7 linked regions of the Homo sapiens genome follow. The protein of the gene in region 6 purifies or fractionates together with the protein of the main gene of each other region. This does not show direct contact. Each region holds a gene or a part of one and is shown on either strand. Other genes may lie near its edges. The genes, in order: MYH15, MYOT, IDH2, MYH6, TNNT3, MFGE8 and FABP3.

Region 1 (4,161 bases), on a different chromosome or scaffold from region 6:
ATTCATTATTTTGGTCCCTTTTTGCAAAAACTGATTTTGCTTTGTGTTATGTCTATGAAAATATGCTTGTTTTTGAAAAGCACCCAGTTAGCATACATTTTGTGTGTGTGTTTAAGGTAAAATGCTCTGCATTTTAAACCAAATGTTATCACTTGAAAGAAACTTGAAGGTCACCTGGCACAGTCTCTCTCCCTCTGTCTCTCTTTCTCTTTCTTTTTAGAAAAAGAACCTTGGGAGAGAGATGAAGAGAGTTGCCCATAGTCACATAGCTAATTAGTGGCAGTCACTACAATAATGACTCTAGAAATGAGATCATCCACCTCCTGAATCAGTGCTCCTGCATTACAGCCTGCCTCCTCTAACACATTCTTAGCTTTTTCTCCTCCAATTCTTCTCTCCAGGAGTAGGCTCACCACCTGCCTCATGATGAAGTCTCTCTCTTACCACCCCTGGAAACACTTAGTGGGGAATAAAAATTATCAGAAATCCTTTCTCATAGGAGACCCAAACCCTGACAGGGACATTTTAAAAAATGAAGTAAATGAACTCTGTCAATTTTAATTCCTGGTGTTCATGAATAATGCAGAGCTGGAAATGTAGATAGCAATGGATTTGAGGGAGGCAGCCAGGATTTTAACACTGGCTTTGCTGGTAAAAAGATATAAAGCCACATGACTTCATCTCTTTTGGCCTTCGTATTCTCATCTGTAAAGTAGGCCTTTTTCTATATGATTCCATTTTTTAGACAATTAAATATCTTTTCCAATATAAAGCTAATATGTGCTTATTGAAGAAAACTTGAAGAATAATGTATGAAGAAAAGAATGTTTTTAATCACCCATAATCAAACAACTCAGAGATAACCACTGTTATGTATTGAAGCATTTCTTTTGAATCTTTTTTCTAGGATATTGATTAAAACAGGGGTAATACTATATTCAGTCTTATAGTTATTTTAAATAGATCGCTTACATGTTCTAATATAAGAATTATTTACATTTGGCTTTCGAATGGTGTTTTGTCCTAGCTCTACAACCACCTGGGCTTCTTCACTGTCACCCAGGAATTCTAGTTTTCCTTCTCGGGTATCATAATAATGCATTATATTTATTTTTCACATTTATAGTCTCATTTGGTCCCCACAGCAATGGAGGAAGGCAGACCGGACAAGTATTATTATCTCCTTTGATACATGAGGAAACCAGGGCTCAATAAAGTGAAGTGATTTGCTCTAATTACCCAGCCAGAGATGGTCAAGGACAGGGAATTTGATCCCAAGACTACCTGCTAAATACTCGTCATCACACTACTTCCATTTGACCCGAGTTCAAAAAAGCAAACTCCATTGTCTACCAGCCTGGGAAGATGAACAACTTTTGCTAACACTTGTCTCTGCTGCCAGTGCATTTCTATGAGGAAGGATTGTTTGGTCCAAAAAATTAACAGGAAATTATGTAGATTGCTATGTTTTAAGTAATTATTTATGGTGCTGATTTTAATAAATGCATCATCCAATTATCTCTAATGCTTAGGCTCAATTTTTTTTTCTTCCTGGCATCACTATTATCTTGTCCTCCATTATCTAACTACCTGCGATAAGCCTCTGCATGACCAGTTCTGACCTCAGGGATAGTTCTGTTATCGTATTTGATTTGATGGATTATAATTAGCCTAAAATCCAATCACAGTCATGAATCCAATGACTGGAAACTGGGAACTGATCCAGGACTGGTCTGTGATGGAAATATAATATCCTCCATAACTGGCTTGAATTATAATTGGTCATATTAAAGTCTAATGTTGACTAATTCTGAATACTAGAACGACATTCAGCCAGTCCTTATGTTGCACTGCTGAATAATTTTGGATTAAGACATGTAGGTAGCTTCATGTTATATCATACTGTGAATCTGATTTCTAAATCTCCAATTAGCTGAAATTCAACACAGACATGTAAAGGTAGCAGGAAAAAGAATAACATTTATTTAGAGATTTCAATGTAGAACTTAGCCTTTTTTTTTTAAGGCTAAATCCTCATTAACCTTTGTCCTTGCCTGTAACTACCAAGGAATTATGAATCAGGGTGAGCAAGTCTCCTAATTACCTTTTGCTTAGTGTTGGCTGAGTGACCCTGCTGACCTAGAAGACCGCTAGAGGCAAGGCTCCAACATCAAAAAATTCTGGAGAGCCAGAGACAACTTCAAAGTCTGCAGCCTTACCAGAGTCTTTCCCTTTCTTCTTCCCCACAATGTACAAACCCCACCCACCAGTCTAAGTCACAGGCCCCTCTCTCTACTGTGGCATTCACTGATAACTAAGAGGTTTCTAGGAAAGGCTTTGTCTGGCCATTCCTGCAGGTGTCTGTGTTACAACAGGGGCTCCTTGAAGAGAAAATCTGTCTTAGGATCAAGTGTGTAGGGCCCGGGCCTAGACTGCCTCCCAGCCACCCTCCTCTTCTGTGGGTACTTCCATTCCTACCCTGGATACTCAGAGGCCCTCAATTGCTCAGTTTCCTAGAGGCTGATCATACCCTAAGCAAATAAGTTAGGCTCTAGAACTGATGGCTCTTCTCTGTCAATCAAATATCTTAGTCACCATCTTGAAGGAGCAAAATAAAGTGAAGCCAGCAACCACCACATGTCTCACCATCCAAGGCTGTGGCCTGTAGTAGAAGCAGCTCAGCTTCACTTCTTCTGAGGAAGGCTGCGGCTTCTCCAAGGTCTGACAGATCCATCTTTATTAAAGCAATCCACCAAAAAAAGGCCCTAAACGTGAGTAGGCAAGATTCAACCTGAAAAAAAAAAATTGATACAGAGAAGAAAAAAGTGGAAATAAGGCATCAAGCTCTAAATGAGCAACCATTCACATAGATAGACTAAAGAGTGTTAAGTTTTCCTGTAACTACCTGTGCCCCTTCTTTCTCTTCGCTATGTCTCAAATTTATACAAAATTGGACTCAAGAATATCTGACTCTAGCAGGGCTGACTTACCCACTAGACATAGAAGGCACAGTGCCTGAGGCCCACAATGCTTTTAGGGGCCCATGAAAATGTTTAATTTATTTTTAAATCAGAAGAAAAATATAAAAGTAATATGAATGATACATATTAATGAACAGAGCCTGGATTATATTCATCTTTAGGCCAACACAGTTATGAAATCTGATTTTTAATATTTTTTTGTGGAGAAATGGTCCTTAAAAGACAGAAGTGCCTGTAGTCAGTGAAAGTCATAATGCCACCCTGCGCCATGGAGTTCTGACAGGTGGTAGGATATTCCAGATGGAGAAACATCAAGTTGCGGACACTAGGCCTTTGATAGGCGTGGAGGGGGGTTTCGAGGTATCTAATTACCCCCAAGCAGACAGACCGTTATAGACAGAGTATGGTTACAAAGAGAAGTGATTCAGATAAATGTTCAGTAATAGACAGTAAAGGGATAAAAAGATAAGTATCTTGGCAGAGATAAGTGTCTGGGAGCAAATGATTTACAAAAATACAGGCACAGCTGGGCATTTGGGAGGCCTGGCCAAGAGCAGTAATGAAGAAGCCCAGGCTGAAGGTGGCAAGCAGGTTACATGGTGATGTGAGTGAAGCTGGAATAAATAAAGAAGTTCATTGGCTCAAGCAAGGCAAGTATCAGTCTTAGAGGGACTAAGTTGCTGGACAAATTACCAAGGCTGAAGTCACTGAGCACCCACTGTATACCAAACACTGGACATAGTTTATCTTTAATTTTCACACTTTACATTTGATAACAGGGAGAAGAAGAAATGGAAACTGGGCCTTCATGATCTTAAATGAGAAGCTATTCTCTCTATTTGGACAAAAAAAGTCTTCCTCTTCACTCAAGCATGCAAGGCAAGTGTTACTCATCACATTTATAGGTAAGAAGGTAGAGAAGGACTTGCCAAGTTTGCTTAGCTCAGGTGCTGTCTTTGAGGACAGATCAGCACCCACTTCAGAATGAACTGTAATCACTTACTATCTTGCAATGAACAAATCCAATAAACTAATGTATTTTACTGCACTTAATCTGCTCTCTTCTTTGTGGTGGCTTGGATAGGTATAGTGATACCACTTGTAGGATCTAGTTTAAAGGAGTATGATTTAAAGCAAAGCCTACTGGTTCAGGCTAAGAGTTAGTTTTATTTCTGCCAGC
Region 2 (3,500 bases), on a different chromosome or scaffold from region 6:
CTGCTTCTCCCCAGCAGCATGCTGGCTCCAACCCAGGCCAAAGGGTTACAACCACCTATAACCAGTCCCCAGCCAGCTTCCTCAGCTCCATATTACCATCACAGCCTGATTACAATAGCAGTAAAATCCCTTCCGCTATGGATTCCAAGTAAGTGAATTTTTATATACCGCATGTACAGTGAACTTATATCTGAGGAGTTTGCGAGGGGGTAGGAGTTTTGGGGGTATGCTGCAGTTCATTCTTTACTATCTAAAAAGGCAATGTGACCTTACAGTCTCATTCCATAGTTCTACTAGAACATGCTGAACCAGGGTACTGGCAATAAGAGGTCATCTGACTATTCTCCAGTGTCCAAGCTGCGCTGAATCCAATTACCTATTACCCCATAAAATTATTTACCCATTATTTTCCATCTTTGAAAAAAATAATTTCTCACATACCAAAGAACAATGAACTTTTCCTTTAGTTCTAAGCTAAGCTCCTCATGCTGTAAATTTAATTCCTCTGGTTCTGGGCTTGGCTAAGATGAACACCTGTCTGCTCTTCTTCAGATAGGATTTCCTCTCACATAAGCAGAGGCTATTAAGTTTCTTCTCAGTCTTTTCTTCCTATCCCTTTTCCCCTCTAATCCTGAATATCCACTTGGCTGAAAAATTTTTAAATTAACAAATAAAAAAACCTGGAACTCAGACCCTGGAATGTATACATTTTCCTTACTGTGATCAGAAGAAGGAAGGCCTGAATAGATGAAGGCTTATGACCTTACGGTTTCGTTTGGTAATTAAAACCACACCTTGTTCAAATTAGTTGGGTTGATCTAAATACAGGGACTAATACTGGGGCCTTATGTAAACATGTGCTATTTCCACTACCCTAAGACTGTCCTAGGAGAACCTAGTATGAAAAAGGAGATGGTGGTTATGCTTTTTTTAAAACATGAACTGAATACCTTGTGCTTATGCAAACTATTGGCTATCAGCTTTCCTGTTCCTTGGCTGGCTGGAACATCAGAGAATTAAATCAGAGGCATCTCAAAAATTGTCTGATGGAATATGTTTTGTTGCAGGCTTACTAATACATTCACTCAACTCTGCTAATTTCTCGCAGTCTTCTCTAGAGGCTAATTTTTCTACAAACTCCTATTATTGGTGACAACTTTGGAAATCTAGTTGAACTGCCTATAGCAATTCAACTTGCAAAAAAAAACCTTTTCAATATTTTAAAAAATAAAAATCAGGAAAACCAAAAACATTTGTTAGAATCCTATAGATATTAAGTTGAACCATTTGAAATGGCTGATAGTCAACTGTTTTTGACCTACAAAAATGGCATTCTCACAGGTTTAACCTAATATTTTAAAAGGATGTTTTTAATAATTGAGAGCCCTTTCTTTCTCTTCCCTCCCAAATTCCCTTTATAATATATAGATCTTTCTTGGTTATATTTACCCAGATGATCATTTTCCATCTAGCTTTCTATTATTTCCATATTTCCTATATTAGCATTTTAAAATCTAGAAGAATTTTTTGTTTTTCTTAGTAAAGTCTTTCAATCATATTTCAAATTACTGCCCAGAAAAGAAAGTGATCAAAGACTTAAGAAAAGAGAAAGGCAAAAACATAATAAGAAATAAAGCCTAGGAGGTCCCCAAACCAGAGATCAAAGATCCACTTTAGCTGTTCCATTTTCAGCAACCACAGATAACTCTTTAATCTTCCCATAGCTACTTGATACCCATTTCGTGTCCAGCTGTGCAGAGTGGAAAGCCCTGGCCCTTTGAACATTTGTGCACAACTCCCTCGTTATTATGGGCTCCAGTTCGCCCTGACTTCCAAAATAATCCCTTGGATTCTGACCTAGAGAAATTTGAAAGCTTTATTTAGATTTTCATCAATAGGAAGCTCTTAGGCAAACATTTTACCCAGTTGATCAAACCACAGACTGAAAACTGAGGGGAACTCAATTGTTCCTTCCAAAAAGCTTGCTATGTGAAATTCAGCAAGCACTTTACCTACCCAGTGCTTCAATTTTCTGGTCTGTAGCAATATTAAAGAGTTAGGTAATTAATGATAGAGAAAGGACCTATAAAGCAGTGTGCAAACGTACTATTAGTTTGTAAATGGGAGCATTTATCAAGTCGTAACACTTAATCCACCTAAACTGGGAATAATGAGAGTATTCAGTGAACAAAGTGACTGAGGTTACATATACATCAGTGATTCTCAGGATTGGTTTTGATAATCCTTCAGGACTTCTCAGATATATTCAGAATTTCCCAGATATGACAAGTCTAAAAACAATTATTTAATGCTAATTCACATTAACAAATGTGTGACTTATAAAGATGATAAGCTAGCATTTTTAAAAAAAAAAAAAACAGTAGGCTAGGCCAGGTGTGGCTCACACCTGTAATCCCAGCACTTTGGGAGGCCAAGGTGGATGGATCACCCAAGGTCAGGAGTTTGAGACCAGCCTGGCCAACATGGTGAAACCCTGTCTCTACTAAAAAAAAAATACAAAAAAATTAGCAGGGTGTTGTGGCAGGCACCTATAATCCCAGCTACCTGGGAGGCTGAGGCATGAGAATCGCTTAAACCCGGGAGACATAGAGAGAGGCAGAGGTTGCAGTGAGCCAAGTCCATGCCATTGCACTCCAGCCTGGACAACAAGAATGAAACTCCGTCTCAAAAAAAAAAAAGTGGTCTATTATAATTCTATACGATTGAAAAAATATGAGATCTATAAGGCCAAAGAGATTTTGACACTTTGATCTAGGAATTCAATCTTTAAAAAAAAAATCGCTATTTTAAAAAACATTTTGTTTGGCTATTAACTGAACAAATCAGACTTTAAAAATTTATATAGACAACCATAAAGATCTTAAGACCTGAAATGTCAGGAGAGGAAATGTGTATCATTAGCTTTCAATAGAGTGTCCTGAATACTATGAAAATCACTCATTCACTCAACTGATAGTATCTCCTATACCCATGCTCTGTGTTCGTGGATATAAATGATATAATGATAACAAATAAGACATATTTTTTCTCCAGAATGTTTACAATCTAATGATTACTAACCAAGTTCCCAAAGCCAGTAAAAATTAAAACTCTGGCCCTACTTGGAGGAAATACATTTATACTTAGCTCACAAGTCCTTTTAATGATCCTTGAGAATATTTGGAAAGGATCATTTCAGAGAAGAGACCAAGATTGTCTCATCTGGATAGCCAGAGAACATTTATTATAATAATGGTAAAATACTCATTGAGGGCAGTGGCTAGTTTCCTCACATTAAATAGATTAATAAAGATTAGTCCCTGCAGGCCGGGTGCGGTGGCTCAAGCCTGTAATCCCAGAACTTTGGGAGGCCCAGGCAGGCAGATTACCAGAGGTCAGCAGTTTGAGACCAGCCTGGCCAACATGGCAAAACCCCGTCTCTACTAAAAATTCAAAAATTAGCTGAGCATGGTGGCGGGTGCCTGTAATCCCAGCTACTT
Region 3 (4,004 bases), 1.2 Mb from region 6:
CAGGCCTCAGGAGCAGCTCTCTCTGACCCTCTCCCTCCCTCCTGTCTTTGGCCCCTCACTCTCCTCCGAGGCCAGCCATAGAAACTGGAATCCTTCTTCCTCAAGGCAGGTCATAGAAACCAGAGCCCTTCTCCCCCAAAGCCAGACATCGAACCCAAAAATATTACTCTTTCTCCCACACATTTCTGGGTAAAAACTGGCCATAAATTATCTGACCTACCTTGTTTGCTTGCAGGTCCTAAGACCCCTCCATCCCAGAGAGAGTCCTGCCCCGTACTCAGAAGGAAGGAATGCTGCAGAGAAAGGTCAAGAAGAATCTACACGGACAGGACTTGCTGGGTTTCCCCACTCAGGTTATTGGCCTTCTGGTCCAATCATATTTCTTTTTTCGTGGTTTTTTTTTTTTTTTTTTGAGACGGAGTCTCACTCTGTTGCCCAGGCTGGAGTGCAGTGGCATGATCTCAGCTCACTGCAATCTCTGCCTCTCAGGTTCAAGTGATTCTCCCGCCTCAGCCTCCTGAGTAGCTGGGATTACAGGCGCGCGCCACCATGCCCGATCAATTTTTGTATTTTTAGTAGAGACAGGGGTTTCATTATGTTAGCCAGCCTGGTCTCGAACTCCTGACTTCAAGTGATCCGCCTGCCTCGACCTCCCAAAAGTTCTAGGATTACAGACGTGAGCCACCGCGCCCGGCCCAAAGTGAGATTTCAACTCTCTCTACACCAGCTGGACCTGACAGCGGACTCGCGGAGGCGCAGACGCCGCCGGCGGTCTTAGCTCAAGAATGAAGCAGCCGCACTGGGCTAATGCGCCTTTGGGTTCAGCCCGGCAGGCGAGGGAAGCAAGAGTTCGCTCAGATTGGCTTTTGGGTTTAAGCTAAAGCGTCAGAAACTGACATCCAGGTTTACATGGGGCATCCTGGAGAGGGTCAGCCTCGCAAGCGGCTCTGCTAATCCCCCAGCCCTGATCCCGCTCGCGGGTCCCGGTGGGTCTCACGCCTGTAGCTCCTGCGGAGCTGGGCTTTCAGCGGCGCCCAGAGAAGCACCAGCCGGGCCTGGCCGCCGGGTCCCGGCTCCCGCGGGACGCTGGAGGCGTCGGCGGCCCTGGCCCCGCCTCCTCCCCGGCAAGGCCCAATGGGGCGGCAGGCCCGGCAGCCCCGCCCCGGTGGTGCCCGCGCGGCCAGCGCCCGCCAGGCCCAGCGTTAGCCCGCGGCCAGGCAGCCGGGAGGAGCGGCGCGCGCTCGGACCTCTCCCGCCCTGCTCGTTCGCTCTCCAGCTTGGGATGGCCGGCTACCTGCGGGTCGTGCGCTCGCTCTGCAGAGCCTCAGGCTCGCGGCCGGCCTGGGCGCCGGCGGCCCTGACAGCCCCCACCTCGCAAGAGCAGCCGCGGCGCCACTGTGAGTGCCGCGCGGAGGGTCCAGGCAGGCGCGCGCCCCCAGCTGCGACGTGGCGGCTTCCCAGGCTGGGGCCGGGAAGCACGTCCCGCCAGCCCGCAGCCCGGGGACGGCGGGGTCAGGCGCACAAAGGGCCGCGGGGCAGCTTCGCTCCGCGCTCCCCCGCCCGGCGCTTCCCGGCCGTGCCAGGCGCTGGGGTGGGGACTTGAGGGACGGTGGCAACTGGTGGCCCGGGCGACGGCCAGCTCTGCGCGGGCGGGGGCTCGGGGCTGCCGCGCGCCCCTAGGTATTTCGGGAGGGGGTCCTGAGAGTGTCCCGGACCCGAAGGGTGGCCTGCCCGCCCTGCGCCCCTGGAACGAGACGAGCACCCGTGGGGGGCTGGAGCACCCCGCGCGCTCCCCTGGCGAGAGGGAGGGTCGTGGCTCGGCCCCTGCTCAGACAAAGGCTGGGAGGCGGGAGACATGCACTTCCCCTTCCTTTTCAGCCAGGCGCGCGCTGATACCAGGCCCACGTCAGCTATTTTTGGAGCCTTTTACACGACAGCTGGAGGAGCGTCCTTTTTAATTTTCCCCTTTTGTTTGGCCGCCCCCACCCCCACCCCTTCGCCTTCATCGCTGCACTTGAGGCTCCATCCTGGGGCCTCTCCTTGACTTGACCTGCCTTGGCAGGCACATGCCCTCCCTGCCTGGCTCACTCGCCGCAGAGACCTGGCAGCCCGCGCAAAATGTCACTTTGCGGAATCGTTCCCACGGCTTCTGGGTACCCTTAGTTCCCTGCTTAGGAGGGAAGACAGTAGTCGGGTCGTAATAAGCAAGACTTAGCCCGAGCCTCCGTTGCCAACGCAGGCTGCCTTGCTTGGCGTGTGGGCATCGGCCTGCCCCCTCACCCTGGCTACCCAACACAGCTACAAAAGGCAGGGAACAATGTAGGTCCCTTGGCCCTGCCTAATGCCTGTTGCCATGGAAACCCCTATCCTAATCTGGCCAGGAGCCCCTTGCAGTGAGCCAGGAGAGTGAGGAAGAGGGGATGGGGCCCGCTGGCCCTGACCTGGCCAGAGGAGGTAATGGTTAACCGGATTGTGGGAGCAGCTGACTAGAGCCGGGGGGGTAGGGAGGCTTGGGCCCCAGTCCTACCTTCCCTGCCAAGGAGAAAGGGGCATGTCTGCTTTTGTACCTCTGGGAATCTACCTCAGGGATCTGCCCAACAACTCCCAGGTTCCAAGTGCCCCAGGACCCAAAGATTCCCATATAGCACACCACCTTCAGCAAAAATATGGTGGAAGTTAGCCACATTCTTTAATTCTCCCTTTTTTTCTGCCTTGATGGTAAAAAAAAAAAAAAGAAACAAACAACCCGAAAAACACACACAAACAGGAACACAAAGCGCCTTTTAAGGGTCCTGAATTTGGATACAGAAAAAGCAGTCAGTTGCAGGCCCTTCTAGAAGTCCCCATGTGGGTTGGTTATGAATGGGGAAATTGCTTGGTGTTGGAGTTGGACATCAGACTCTACAGTTGCGACTCTGCCAGCTTGTTACCTGGCAACGCAGCTGGAGACAGAATACTTGGCATTCCCCTTGATGACAAGGAAAGAATATTTTGGGGCTAAAAGAGCCCCGTGTCTTTGCTGCCTGGTAATTCCTGCACGCATCTTTTCCTATTTTGCAACGCCATAGGCTTCCAGCGACTGCTGGTGATGTTTCTGGTAAGTTAGAGCTTGGGGCAGTGCGGACCAGTTCTGTGAACGGCTCAGTGGCAGAATTACTTATCTAGCCTTCCTTCACTCCTAACCCAGAAACTTCTTAATTCTTGCCCCTTAAGTGTGCAGATCTTTCTGCCACGTCAGATAAGGCCCTAGCTGCCCTGCCAGAGCTGATTGGGGTGGTTGTGTTTAGGCCTAGTAGGTACTGAGGAAAAGCCTCTTTGGAATGGCTGAGGCCTGCTCCCACATCTTCTGTGTGAAGTTGAGGGCCCTTGGGCTGGTTCCATTCAGGGTATGAGGTGCTGGAAACTGCTCTCAGATTACTGGAAGCCAGGGTCTGTGGCCTTCCCTGGGGTTTATACTCTGTAAACCCATGTTAAAAATACCAGCAGATTGCAAATATTAGTACACTGTAGGTTGTAAGCTTCTTCAGGGCATGGGGCCTATTGCTGGAGAGAGATGCCACCCGTGTACATCTGGTGCAGGCTGCTGGTAAGAACTCACTGGCCCCTGTGTGGCAATGCATACCAGATGGGTGAGAGGGGAGGAAACACATTCAGTGAAACAGAAGGTGAGGGCAGGGCAGCCCTGACCACAGATGGAGTTGACTTCAACTTGACCTTTATTTATGTCTTTGACAAAAGTAGTATACTCCTACTTTGTGCCAGACACCATGCCGGGTGCTGGGGATAGAGCTGGGAATAAAACCAGCAGAGACTCTTTCAAAACCCTTAGGAGCTCAAATTCTGATGTGGGAGGGGGCAGACAGTAAGCAAGATAGATGTTGACTAGTATGATATATGGGTACAAGAGCTAAGGAAGGCCAGGCACTGTGGCTTACACCTGTAATCCCAGAATTTTGGGGGGCTGAGGTGGGAGGATTGCTTGAGGCTGGGAGCTCCAGACCAGC
Region 4 (3,500 bases), on a different chromosome or scaffold from region 6:
AACAAGAACCTTCAGGGTGTGCTGGGGGTCCAAGAGGCCAGAGATGAGTTGGTGGGAGGGAGGGCCATGCAGGGGCAGGGGGAACATAGGCTTTGAGCTTTCTGGCCCTCTGGTCCCCAGAGGAAATCTCGGACCTTACTGAGCAGCTAGGAGAAGGAGGAAAGAATGTGCATGAGCTGGAGAAGGTCCGCAAACAGCTGGAGGTGGAGAAGCTGGAGCTGCAGTCAGCCCTGGAGGAGGCAGAGGTGAGGGCCGAGAACTCCCTGCACCCCATCCCTGTTCTGCCGCTGTCTCCCACTTCTCCCTCACCTGGGGGTGACCCTGACCCCAGGACAAAATCTATTCATTCCATATTCTTTGTTCAACATTATCTACCCACTATTCACTACCCATGACTGCCTCCAAAGCCAAGGTCTGCACAAAGGAAAATGTCAGTCTGATTAGAGGCCAAAGGTTTTGTTTCCCACCAGGTTTTAAAAGTTGGAATCTGGCCATAATAATAACCACTTAGACAGTGGGTAGGAGTGTGGGGTTCCAGAGTCAAACAGGCCTGAGTTGGAACACAGCTTGAGGACTTTCACTGCAGCGTTGGGCAAAATCTTTAATCTCTCTCTGCCTCAGTTTTCTCATCTGTAAAATGGAATTAACTGTACATACCTCATATGATTTTACACATGATTATTATAAAGATTAAATGAGGTAACACATTTAAGCACTTAATATATATTAGCTATTGTTACTCTTCATTTCTAAGCACCTGGGAATAGCCCTGAGTTTTCTGGGCTTCTAACTTTTCTCAGGAAAGGGTGAGGGACCTGGAAAACAAGATAAAATTTTGTATTTGTGGTTATAAAAATTCCTCCATTTTCTATAATACTTTAGACAGGTCAGGAATTTATGCAGTGTTAGTGCTGGAGGGTCTGGCAATTGTGAGGTCCAAACCCTTTTCTTGACAGGGGAAGCCCAGAGAGTCCAGCACTTTCTCCCCAATAGCACCGTGGTGGGCATGGGGTGCAGATCCCACCTCCCCATCTCTTCTCAGCTCTTCTTCTCTGGGCGATAGTCCTGGCTGACACCGTGTATCTTCTCATCCTCCCTCTCAACCCTGCCCTGTGCCCTGTCTGCCCGCCCTCGCCCCACCCCTTCCCAGGCCTCCCTGGAGCACGAGGAGGGCAAGATCCTCCGGGCCCAGCTAGAGTTCAACCAGATCAAGGCAGAGATCGAGCGGAAGCTGGCAGAGAAGGACGAGGAGATGGAACAGGCCAAGCGCAACCACCAGCGGGTGGTGGACTCGCTGCAGACCTCCCTGGATGCAGAGACACGCAGCCGCAACGAGGTCCTGAGGGTGAAGAAGAAGATGGAAGGAGACCTCAATGAGATGGAGATCCAGCTCAGCCACGCCAACCGCATGGCTGCCGAGGCCCAGAAGCAAGTCAAGAGCCTCCAGAGCTTGCTGAAGGTACATGGGGGCGGGAGGTCCCCTCAGGGGACTGGCCTCCATGTGGCCTGGAGAAGCAGTGGTGTCTGGATACAGGCACCAGATTCCTCCTGCCCCTGGGTTACTGCAGGGACCTCTGACAGGTGCCCTCAGTGAAGGGCACCGAGGCTGGCTTCTGCTCACACCCACTCTCCTGATGCTCAGGACACCCAGATCCAGCTGGACGATGCGGTCCGTGCCAACGACGACCTGAAGGAGAACATCGCCATCGTGGAGCGGCGCAACAACCTGCTGCAGGCTGAGCTGGAGGAGCTGCGTGCCGTGGTGGAGCAGACAGAGCGGTCCCGGAAGCTGGCGGAGCAGGAGCTGATTGAGACCAGCGAGCGGGTGCAGCTGCTGCATTCCCAGGTGAGGGGGTCAGGAGCCACCTTGTGGAAACCTACTGAGTGCAGAGCCCAGGACATCTAGAAAAGCCAGATGTTCTAAGTGAGCACATCTAGCCAGGGTCACAAATCATTTCCTCTCTTAGGCCAACTCTCATCTGTGGTGGCTGCAGAACCATTATATTAAGAAAGCGGTCTCTACTTAGAAGCTAAGAGGGTCATGATTGATTGCTGATACCTGCCAAAGCCACAAATCTGGGAGTAGTGGAATGTATCCTGTTATTTGATATTCTTGATCTGAAAGACAGCCTCCGGCTTGCTCTGTAAAGATGAGAGTTTGGGAGTTTAAAGAAGCATAACTGCATCTCTTGCAAACCAAGCTGGCTAGAACACCATTTTCTGCAATCCCACCCACACTGTTTTCAGTTATACTCTGCAATGAGACTTTGTGCTCACCTTTTGCAGTGCCCTGTGGAGTTTTGTTCTTTAATCTAGTATGTGTGAGAATGACATCATCCACTTACCTCATCCCCTCTTCCTTACCCCACTACATTCTTGGTATAGCTATAAACATCTCTGGAATATTGTCCTGGTAAAAAGTTGTTTCCATCTTCCTTGGAATATTGTCATGCTCCTACGTAAACATGTTGCTAAAGAGCTCCAGGGTAATACTGCAGACCTTTTGCTATTTGAAGTCTTTTTTCAGAGTTTAGTAATCTTAGATACAATGTCTAGAATGTATGCACTTTCATAGGAAAAGGGAAAGCAGGTACAAAACGATCAATAGTCTAAAAGTGGGCTTGTTGTTTTAAAAAAAAAATGACCACCTTTAATTCTTTCTGGAGAAAGGGTATGAAATCAGGTAACAAAGTGTAGTATATATTTGATCATTTTTCTCTCTCCATGTCTAGAACACCAGCCTCATCAACCAGAAGAAGAAGATGGAGTCGGATCTGACCCAGCTCCAGTCGGAAGTGGAGGAGGCAGTGCAGGAGTGCAGAAACGCCGAGGAGAAGGCCAAGAAGGCCATCACGGATGTAAGTGACCGCCCACCTTCCGCCTCCCCTAAAGACAGAAACAAGGCCTTGGGTCCAGGCCAGGCCACTGTGCTGTAACACCAAGCCAACTCTGCAGTTCTGTGGATTTGAGGGCCTGATGGGAGAAAGGAGATCCTTGGGGGGCAAAAGGCCCCGGCCCCTGGCCCATGTTCCTTGCCACCTCTCTCCTGCACACAGGCCGCCATGATGGCAGAGGAGCTGAAGAAGGAGCAGGACACCAGCGCCCACCTGGAGCGCATGAAGAAGAACATGGAGCAGACCATTAAGGACCTGCAGCACCGGCTGGACGAGGCCGAGCAGATCGCCCTCAAGGGAGGCAAGAAGCAGCTGCAGAAGCTGGAAGCGCGGGTGCGGGAGCTGGAGGGTGAGCTGGAGGCCGAGCAGAAGCGCAACGCAGAGTCGGTGAAGGGCATGAGGAAGAGCGAGCGGCGCATCAAGGAGCTCACCTACCAGGTGCGGCGGACGCCAGACACCAGGAGTAGATGTGGAAGTTTCTTCTCTGGCCCCACTGCCCCGCCCTCACAGGGCTCCTCTCACCTCCTCCTTGAGATGCTGTTGGTAGATTTAACGTTCTTCTCACGCTCTGCAGTCAGTTTGACTTGAGTCTATGAGTTTTTCCAG
Region 5 (3,500 bases), on a different chromosome or scaffold from region 6:
AGTGAAGGGGAACCCAGGGCCGCAGGCCGCCCAGTCTCACCCAGGCTGTCTCTCTCCCTCTCCCCACGCTGGTGTCCCTCTCCCTACGCTGGTGCTGTGTGGACCAGAGGAGAAACCGAGACCCAAGTGAGTGTGGGGTCCTGGCAGGCCCGCTGCTGAGTGTGTTCTGGGGTGGGGGTGGTCAAGTGAGTGTGGGGTCCTGGCAGGCCCAGTGCCGAGTGTGTTCTGGGGTGGCGGTGGCCAAGTGAGTGTGGGGTCCTGGCAGGCCCAGCGCCTCGTGTGTTCCGTGGTGGAGGCGGAGGAGAGGGCCAGGGCCAGATGCCTGGAGCCTGCATTCGGAGGGACGCTCAGAGCGCAGGGTGGGAGGGATGAGGGTCACCTGGGAGATGGGCTTGGGAGGCCCAGCAGGGTGTGATTTTGCCCAGGGTCATCCAGTGCAGACAAGGAGGGCTTCCTGTAGGAGGAGGCTGCAGACGAGGAAGGAGGGAGGAGAGGTGGGTGGGAGAGAGTTGAGGAAGGAAGGCGGGGCAGCTGGTGCAGGGAGTCTGGCCACCGCAACACCCCACGGCCTTCGGGGGACCACACCAAGCCCCGCCATACTTCTAGGACTCCCAGAGTCCTAGATTGAAAAGCGACAGGAAAGTGAGTCCGGAAGTGGAGAAAGGTGGGGGACTCAGCCCAGAAACCCACTTCAGAATGACACCTTGACCGTGTCCAGAAGAGCTCACTGTGCAGGGGCCCCTGCTCCCCTTTGGGGCAGAATTCAGAGGAGCTTGTCCTCATCGCACCTGCTTGTGAGCACTTCGTGGGTTGGTTTTTTTAATGCAGCTCTTCTGACTTTTCTGCTTTTGATCGGTATTCACCAGCCACAGCACTCGCTACGTGATTCACCCTTTTATCTCTCGAGTGCTCTTGCCTGTGTGTTGCTCTGTGCGAAGTGGAATCTTAGAGCATCTTGACACACACTCACTGTTGGCTCCCACTTGGGGAGCATTGCAGATTCTCAGAAGAGTGAGAACATCTGAAGGGTACAGCCGGCGTATTCCCACCCTTTGCACTGTATTTTTCAGTGATTTTAAGTACAGTAATGCTGGATCATGAGATATTTTCTCATTTTAGAAAAATTGTTTGTGTTTTCATTATGAAAATAAGACACCTCATGAAAGAAAATTTGGAAAATATATAAAAGTCAAATGAAGAAAAAACGTCATCTATAATTCTCCCACCCAGCCAGCCAGACTGTGGAAAAGAGCAGAAAGAAATAAAAAGCCTTATTTCTTCCTTTTTTCCATGCATAGCGCTTGGAAAAAAAAGATTTAAAGTCGGCCTTGTTTTTCAAACATCATACCGTCTCTACGGCCTTGAATTCTGCTTTTTTTAAAATTTAGCACTATTCATAAGTATTTTTCCATGTTTTTACACAGTCTTCTTAAATATTTTGAATGGCCACATAATATTCCATCAATTGGACAAACCATAATTTTCCTAACCATTCCCCTATTGCAGGCTTTCCCCAATATTTTACTATCATAAATAACGCTGGTTGGAAAGCGTTTTCCATCTTTAGGGTTATTTCCGTAGGCCACATTCCCAGAACTGGAATTACTGGGTCAAAGAGTATGAATGTTCTTAAGGCTTTGACATCCACTGCCAAATTGCTTTCCACAAGGGCCTGGCCAACGCCGTCTCCTACGTGGGATGTGAGCGGGTCTGTGTCCCACACCCTCCTCACCCAGGGACAGGAACGTGCTTTTACATTGCAGCCTCTGATGGATGAGAAACGGCACCTCATGATTCTTTGGCTTTGCGCCCTAACAGTCACTCGGGGCCAGCGTTTCCCTGAGTTTGGGATGGGTCGTCTCTTCTCTGAGAACTCGTAGCTACGGCCATTGCTCATTTGTCTCCTGGTGGAGGAATCTCTGTGTTTTCTTAGTCATCAGTTTGCATAAGGATATAAGTCTTCTCTGTATTTGCTGAAAATTTTTTTTAGTCTTTTTTTTTTGCCTTTCCATTTTCCGTTTTTTTTTTTTTTTTCACATACATACGTTTTTCATTTGCGTGGTGTCATCTGGCCTTCTTTCCCTTAGAGGCACCTTCTGGTGCTCCTGAGCTTAGGAAACCCTTTCCTGCTCCAGTTTCTGATTGATATTTAGTTCCACTTTCTTCTATGGTTTGTTGGAAAAAATTGTTGTTGTTTTAACTCTTTGCTGCATCTGGAATGTATTGGTGAGAGGAGGGGACTGCACACCCAGCCGGAGAGGGGGCCTCATTTCCCCTTCAGATTGCTTTCTTCCCAGCCCCCTCTCCTCCTTCCTTTGGGCCCCCAGAGAGAAAGATGAAAGAGGGGCTGGGGAAAGGCACAGGCTCGCAGCAGCCATTCCTGCCCAGGGAGGCCACCGCCACCCACAGTGGCCATCGCTTCTCACCCGACATGGCTGCATTTGTTTATCTGTTTGAGGAGGAAACAGAGGTGCCCTCCCTGGTAGCTGGGGTGCAGTGACATTGCAATGGCCAGAAGCCAAAAGGCAGACGGTGGCGCTGGAAGCGGAAGCCTTCTTGAGGGGCTCAAGCCACTCTCAGGATGGTGGGCTACAAACCTCATAAGAATAAAGCTGGGGCAAACGTGTCACTAGGCGGGCATGCTTGGCTGGGGGCCAGAGCAGGAGGGCACCAGGGTTGGCAGGGGCCAGCGGGGAAAGCGCCAGGCTGACCCTCTGGGGTGGGTCTCCGGGTCTCTGCTCACGGGCCTCTCTGTCTCCTCTTCAGACTCACTGCTCCTAAGATCCCAGAAGGGGAGAAAGTGGACTTCGATGTAAGTTTACAGGACTCTGGTTAACATGTCCACGGTTTCCCCACACCCCAGCTTTTGGGCTCTAGGCCTCAGAAGGTCACTTCCTCCCAAGTAGCCAGAGCCGGGGCCTCCTGGGTCTGGGCAATTCTACCATAGCTTATTCCTGGGCCAGAGGAAACCCCTCTAAGAATAAGCATCTCTCTTCCCTTCTCCTCCATCTATCCTTCTATCCATCCATCCACCCACCCACGTAAGCTCCTACCCATTCACCTATCCATTCATACACCCACCCACACACCCATCCACTCAACCATCTATCCATCCATTCATCCACCCAACCACCCACCTACCCATCCATCCATCCATCCATCCATCCATCCTGCCTTACTTCCATCCATCCAACCAGCCACGTATCCACTCACCCATTCATCCATCCATCCACCCACCCAACCACCCATTCATACACTCACCTACCTATCCACTCACTCATCTCTCCACTCACCTACTCGCTCACCCACCCATCCACCCATCCATCCATCCATTCATACCACTCATTCATCTACTCATCCATCCATCGATCCATCTATCATCCACTCACTCACATAACCATCCACTCATCCACCCTCCCACCCACCCACCCATTCACCCATTCATCCTCCCATCCACCCACCCACCCACTCACCCACCATCCACGCATCCTCTACCATTA
Region 6 (3,500 bases):
GAGTAATTCTCACAGATCACCTGGGGATCTTGATATAAAAAAAAAAAGCTTATGTTTCAGCAAGTCTAGGCTGGGGCTTTCAGTCTGTATTTCTTTTTTTTTGTTTTTTTGTTTGTTTGTTTGAGACACAGTCTCGCTCTGTCACCCAGGCTGGAGTGCAGTGGCATGATCTCGGCTCACTGCAACCTCCACCTTCTGACCGGGTTCAGGCAATTATCCTGCCTCAGCCTCCCTAGTAGCTGGGATTACAGGCACCTGCCACCACGCCTGGCTAATTTTTGTATTTTTTTAGTAGAGACGGGGCTTCGCCATGTTGGCCAAGCTGGTCTTGATCTCCTGACCTCAGGTGATCCGCTCGCCTCGGCCTCCCAAAGTGCTGGGATTACAGGCGTGAGCCACCGCACCCGGCCTCAGTCTGCATTTCTAAGAAGCTCCTAGGTGATGACACTGCGGGTCCCTGGGGCTCTTCACCCACCAAGCTGCCCCTCCATCTCTTGGCTCCAGCTCCACTGGCCTTCCTTCCACCCTTCAACATGCCCCAGGGCCTTTGCATTTACCAATTCCTTGCCTGCAGTGCTCTTTTTGCAGTGCTGTTTTTAAGTTTTTCATGTGGCTGGCTCTCCATCATTCAGGCCCCCAGTCAAAGGCCTTCCCGACAGAGCAGTCCTTGTCTTGCTCTCTCCCCTCACCCCAAGTCATGGTCATCTCATCAGCCTCTAGCTTTTCTTCAGAGCTGTTACTGCTCTCTGTCATCTGCTCCTCGCCTCAAGTCTGCCTTCCTTGCTACAATGCAAATTACATGAGGTCAAGGAATCATTCCCTAGAGCCAAGCACCCAGGAGGGGCTTAATCAATATCTTAATAAACATCCATCGAATTAAATAATTAATTTACCAAAGACACCATATGTCTGCAAAGAGGAATCCCTTGTGGAATCCCAGGTACCCCCAGACCTCAGCCCCACCCACACACATGCACACGTGCACACATGCACACATGCACCAACACTCTCCAGCCGACTGGAAGGCCTATAGGGAAAGGAGTGGTCCAGACCCTGAAGGAAGCAGACAGGGTACCTGGGCTTCCTTGGTTTGCAAGACTCACCCTCTCTTGGCCCTGAGCAGGGGCCAGTCATGCCTGGATACAGGCAACTTTAATGGCCAAAGGCTTCAAGCCAAAACAGCAAGTGTCAGGGACTCCAGGGAGAGGCACACAGACCTGGCTCTGTCCTTTCCCAGTAGCCTACATTTCCTTCTAGCAGAAGGCAAAGTCTTATACTCCCCACTGAAACAATACGGCTCAAAAGGGCCCCTGGTGGAGGAAGCATACCTACTCAAGTTCATACTAAAAACACTGAACCCAGCCAGGCACTGAACTCAGCTCTGAGGGGTATTTGGGTGGTGTCTGAAATGAGACAACAGGAAGAGGTGTCACAGAGGGGAAAGGCGGGGCACAGGAGGGCAGGTAAGATCAAAAGGCCAGCGGGTAAGATAAGAACCTCCACTCTGCAGCTCTGCTTAGCGAGCCCTACAGTTCCACTGATGGCCAGCAGGTGGCATTGTGGCTGCAAAGAGAGAGAAATACCCAGACCTCAGGAAAGCTGGGTTGAGCTGGGCTGAGACAATTAATGTCTGTCAGCCCAAACCCGGCACTCTGACCTCGCCCAGGCTGTCCCCTGGCTCTGCAGAAATCTGTCCCTTTATGGTCTCCCCAGCTCTTCATCTGGGAATCTCTTTGGAAAAGGCAGCAGGAAGCACCAGCTCCAAGCCCTGTGGTCCAAGAAGCCCCTGTGTTTCTCTGGAGTGCAGACTCTTAAGAGTTTGGCAGGGAAAGCTCTGGATGGGTGTGGTCGGGAGCCCAGAGATCTAGACCAAGTCTTAATACCTACCAGATGTGTACCCTTAATAAATCATTCATCGGGGCCCCACGCCCCTCATTCATTCATTCGCTCATTCATCAAATATTTATTGAGTACCTATAAACCAGACACCATTCTAGGCCCTGGGAATACCGAAGCAAACAAAACAGACAGATTCTCTGCCCTCGTAAAGCTGACATCTGCCAAACACACCTAACGCTACATGTTCTAGAAGCTACAGGAGAGGAGCCAACCAGAAGAAGGGAAAATACTTTGAAAACTGATGTCTTTTTCTCTATCAATCAGAATGCCCTGGGTCATGGGTTGGCAGACAGCAAACACCTGGGTGGGGCTGCTATGGCCAGGTGACCCCCTAGAGTGCGTTGCCCGAGTGAAGCCTGGTCCCCGTGCCTTGTTGCTGCCCTACCTAGCTCAGTTTGGCTGAGAAAAGAGGCAGCAGGGAGGGCCACCTCCTAGGATTGGCCAACAGTGCCCCCCTACCCGCACCCCCAGCACTCACCGTTCAGCTCACAGCCCAGTAGCTCAAAGCGCAGAGTGCAGGCCGTGTGGCAGCTCGTGGGGTACAATCTCACGTACTGAGCCTCCACAGGGGTCTCAAACAGGTTGACATGCACCGCGTTTTTGTTCCAGTTACCCACAAACTCCTAGCAGGGAAGGGACAAGACTGGAGAAGGGGGTCCATCTGAGCAGTCCCCCTCCCTGGGGTTACCTCATCTTCCTCTTCAGACCTGGGAGGCAGAGGTGGGGCTGGGAGGGTGAAGAGGACTTGGAAGAGCCAGCAGAGGCTCACACAGCAGCCTCTCCTTTGGCCACCCCACGGCCCTCCACAAAGATTCTCCTCTCACTTTCCTTAATCATCATGGAGCCTGGGCATAAACCCCTATAGCTGACACAGGGCCACCTGTAACCTACAGGGTACCTCTTTGCAAATTAGGAAAAGGCACTCCTTTCTCAAATAGTTTATTATGACAATTTTCTGACAGAGTTCCACAAATGTACAATGCCTGTACTGTGAATGGTGCCTGCTTAGCAATGACATCCTTGAGCAGTGTACAACCTACACAACTGTACATGTACCCATGAAGGCTCAGAATGAAACCCAGCTCCACCACCACTATCACCCTCAACAGGTCACTGTGCCATTTTGAATCTCACTAGTCTCATCTCTAAAGTGGGACTATTGCTTATAAACCACAGAACATGGACACAGTCTGGGTTTCCCAATTTCTAGAAGCCAAGATGCACCCGAAGACCCACATCATAGCCAATCACCTAGGGTTCTCTGGACTCGCTGGGGGTCCTCAGTCAATGCTAGAACCTTAGGGGGTATGGACCACAGCCCTTCTTTCGGGCCCCAACAAGACCTACCTTGTGTTTTTTATTAACATCATGGATGAAATCGAATTCGTGTCCATTAAGGCTGTAGGCCACCTTGAAGGCCTTCAGGTACTCATGACTGGCCAAGCGGCTGGCACCCTGCGTCACCACACCTGTTACCCACATCCTCCGCAGCAGGTTCACCTGGACACAGGGCAGGGGAGATGGCACCCTTATCTCCTGGGTTCTTTCCACTCAAGATCCAAGCAGACCCATCCCTTCACTCCCCCACTGGGTGGGGGAAC
Region 7 (2,662 bases), on a different chromosome or scaffold from region 6:
ACAGCTAGAAAACAGTCTGCAGTGTGACTTAACTTGTGTATTGCATTCCAGCAGACCACTGAACCAGACAGCGAAGCCAAGATCATTGTTCTACTTTGTATTTACTACTGTGTGAATCAGTTGATTCTACTTCAGGTCCTTGCTTAAATTCCTGTCACTAAATGGAAATGTGTTTGGTTTTAAACTTACTGAGTTATTTTTCCTATAATCCTTCTTCCTGGGTAACTTACAGACTTAAAGTCACTGAGCCTGCATTAGCTGACAAAAACATTTAATATGTTACCTTAGACCTTGGAGAGATGCCCAGCAGAGGTACAGAGCCAAAGGCACTAGCAGATCACTGCCTTCTTGGGAGATCACTTATAAGCCCTCCCTTTTGTAATGATCAGATGCCCTCTTCCCTCAGAGTTGATTAGAGAAGCAGTAAGAATTTGTAGTCATAAGTACTAGCCTGGTGCACAGGTCAGCAGTCCTCTTGGCCAGTGGTCATTTTCTCCCACCACCATGGTACAAGCCTGGGTTCTGTGCCCTGAACCTGAATTCTGGAAAGGGAGAGACTACAGCATTTCACAGAGAACAGCCAGACCCAAGAGCTTTCAGTGTAGGATGGGCCTGAAGTGACAGTTCAATAGCCAAACCTGGGGAAGCCCCATCACTGACTGAACTAGGTCATTTGACCATGGAGGGGGGGCAGTGTAAAGGCAACGTGTAGGTACAGCTCTTTTATTATTAAATGTGTAAGGTGATCAGCTGATTAACAGGCTCCGAGACTGTCCATTTCAGTCTCCCATCCAGTGCTTCTTCCTCAGTAACCTTCAGGCCGTTATTTCTGCCCACTCTCTGACACACAGGATAAACCAAGACTCCCAGAGTTATGTTACCAAAGGCAAAAAGGCAACTGGGTGGCCTTGGCTCTGCTTTATTGACCTCAGAGCACCCTATGAGTGCAGTTAAAAAAAAAAAAAAAAAACCACATACACCATGGGAACTGGAACTGGATCCCGGTCAGTGGCACCTGACCCCAGAAGAATTCGTGGATTTGTACAAAATGCAGAGGAAGAAATGAGGCAATGTGGTGCTGAGTCGAGGGGTAGCCGATTGGCAGAGTAGTAGTCAGCAACAGTGCAGTCAGGTCATGCCTCTTTCTCATAAGTGCGAGTGCAAACTGCAGTGCCGTGGGTGAGTGTCTGGAAGGAAAGACAGAGTGAGATGGGGGGTGGAGCCAGGAACACCATTGCGAGCATTCTACCCTCCCTTCCTCCTGATAATTGTCACTTGAGTACCTACTATGTGCCGGCTATATGTATGTATGTGTGTGTGTGTGTGTGTGTGTGTGTGTGTGTGTGTATACATACATAATTTTTTTTTTCTGATATGCACAGCAAATCCTTAAGATAGGCATTGTAATTCTTATTTTAGAGATTTGGAAAAAACGAGCCTTTAGAGAGGAAGTAATTTGGTCAAGATCCTGAGTGTTTTTCCTTCCCTTATACCATTTGGCTTCCTTCATCCTTAGTGTCTAAGATGGTGCCTGGCATATAGTTGACAAATAGGAAAAATATCCAGAGACTCAGGAAAGGACTGTGTTTGGCTACTAACTCCAATCCTTCCCTAACTTAGAGTAGTGCCAGGGCCAGAGCCCTGTACCTCCCACTATCCGGTCTGGCATCATAGAGCCAGACCCATGGCCTCACCATAGTTCAGCTGCCACTGAGAATTTGGTCCTGCATATCACATCCCCACCAAAGCTAGGCACCTCATTCCAAACTTCAAGGGGACCCCTGTCCCACATGAGTACAAGAATGCAGTTAACAGGTTATGCTGACCCAAGAAGGTGTGCAGTGAAGATGCCTAGGTGAAAACCTGAGGCCCTGTGGTTAGGCAGAATCCACAGTTGGCTGCTCTCCCTGGGTCTGGGGGGAATTCAGTCAAGGCTAGATTCTCCAAGTGAAGTCCCCAAGCTTGAACAGATCTGCCAGCCTGGCTGTGGTACTTCCTACCCAAGCAGTAGTCAAGTAGTTTCAGTAGGCCAGACATAGAAAGCATGAAAATGGGGTAGGACTAGAATGGGGAAGAAAGGACTGTACTGTCATTCAGTGTCCCCACCAGTCACGAGCCTGTCCCTGCAAGTGACAATGCAGTCCTAGGGAGGAGAGGAAAGGGAATGCTGAGATAGGCAATGGGAGCCCCTCCTAGAGGGCCTGGGATCAGATTTGGCCCTGTTTTCTACTTCTTCCTGAGGTGAGGCAAGGTAGAAACACAGGAAGAGCAAACAAAGGACATGGAGCACCTGCTGTGTTCCTCAATCAGTGATGCTTTGTGCTGTGCATACACTGTCTCTTACAGGCTTCCCAGCAGCCCTACAAGGTTGGTATTATTAATACCCGTTTTACAGTTGCACTTGGAAAAGGTGATTTGCCCACAGTCATGTAGCCTATAAGGTAAGATTTGAGTTCCGGCCTGTGTGAGTCCAAAGCCACTACACAGAAAATTCCCACCTGATACCACCCTGACCCACAACCACTCTCTTGTCCCAGCTTCTACAGCTCTCAGGGGAGGACTTGGCTTTTTAGAACAGGCTTGGCTGAAAGAGCAGTAGTAATAACCAATCAGATATAGCTCCAAAGTTGCCCATCTTACCAGGATGAGTTTTCCATCAATT

What was found.
Region 1: the proteins of MFGE8 (region 6) and MYH15 purify together in Homo sapiens (co-immunoprecipitation; one large-scale study listed by IntAct). This does not show direct contact.
Region 2: the proteins of MFGE8 (region 6) and MYOT purify together in Homo sapiens (co-immunoprecipitation; one large-scale study listed by IntAct). This does not show direct contact.
Region 3: the proteins of MFGE8 (region 6) and IDH2 purify together in Homo sapiens (co-immunoprecipitation; one large-scale study listed by IntAct). This does not show direct contact.
Region 4: the proteins of MFGE8 (region 6) and MYH6 purify together in Homo sapiens (co-immunoprecipitation; one large-scale study listed by IntAct). This does not show direct contact.
Region 5: the proteins of MFGE8 (region 6) and TNNT3 purify together in Homo sapiens (co-immunoprecipitation; one large-scale study listed by IntAct). This does not show direct contact.
Region 7: the proteins of MFGE8 (region 6) and FABP3 purify together in Homo sapiens (co-immunoprecipitation; one large-scale study listed by IntAct). This does not show direct contact.

The regions. Positions count from the first base shown.
Region 1 is NC_000003.12:108,507,797-108,511,957, forward strand, and holds the start of MYH15 (myosin-15), read right to left. Parts: upstream 2,801-4,161; 5' UTR 2,792-2,800; coding exon of another isoform or gene 2,735-2,791; coding exon 2,647-2,734; intron 1-2,646. UniProt on the Homo sapiens protein: Muscle contraction.
Region 2 is NC_000005.10:137,870,860-137,874,359, forward strand, and holds part of MYOT (myotilin), read left to right. Parts: coding exon 1-148; intron 149-3,500. UniProt on the Homo sapiens protein: Component of a complex of multiple actin cross-linking proteins. Involved in the control of myofibril assembly and stability at the Z lines in muscle cells.
Region 3 is NC_000015.10:90,099,669-90,103,672, reverse strand, and holds the start of IDH2 (isocitrate dehydrogenase [NADP], mitochondrial isoform 1 precursor), read left to right. Parts: upstream 1-1,204; 5' UTR 1,205-1,282; coding exon 1,283-1,397; exon of another isoform or gene 1,398-1,541; intron 1,542-3,051; exon of another isoform or gene 3,052-3,097; intron 3,098-4,004. UniProt on the Homo sapiens protein: Plays a role in intermediary metabolism and energy production. It may tightly associate or interact with the pyruvate dehydrogenase complex.
Region 4 is NC_000014.9:23,384,274-23,387,773, reverse strand, and holds part of MYH6 (myosin-6), read left to right. Parts: coding exon 1-16; intron 17-120; coding exon 121-245; intron 246-1,150; coding exon 1,151-1,459; intron 1,460-1,642; coding exon 1,643-1,846; intron 1,847-2,732; coding exon 2,733-2,858; intron 2,859-3,056; coding exon 3,057-3,332; intron 3,333-3,500. UniProt on the Homo sapiens protein: Muscle contraction.
Region 5 is NC_000011.10:1,929,703-1,933,202, forward strand, and holds part of TNNT3 (troponin T, fast skeletal muscle), read left to right. Parts: intron 1-102; coding exon of another isoform or gene 103-107; coding exon 108-126; intron 127-2,766; coding exon 2,767-2,812; intron 2,813-3,500. UniProt on the Homo sapiens protein: Troponin T is the tropomyosin-binding subunit of troponin, the thin filament regulatory complex which confers calcium-sensitivity to striated muscle actomyosin ATPase activity.
Region 6 is NC_000015.10:88,903,380-88,906,879, forward strand, and holds part of MFGE8 (lactadherin isoform a preproprotein), read right to left. Parts: intron 3,400-3,500; coding exon 3,247-3,399; intron 2,523-3,246; coding exon 2,378-2,522; intron 784-2,377; coding exon of another isoform or gene 737-783; exon of another isoform or gene 1-736.
Region 7 is NC_000001.11:31,364,753-31,367,414, forward strand, and holds the end of FABP3 (fatty acid-binding protein, heart), read right to left. Parts: coding exon 2,641-2,662; intron 1,188-2,640; coding exon 1,134-1,187; 3' UTR 501-1,133; downstream 1-500. UniProt on the Homo sapiens protein: FABPs are thought to play a role in the intracellular transport of long-chain fatty acids and their acyl-CoA esters.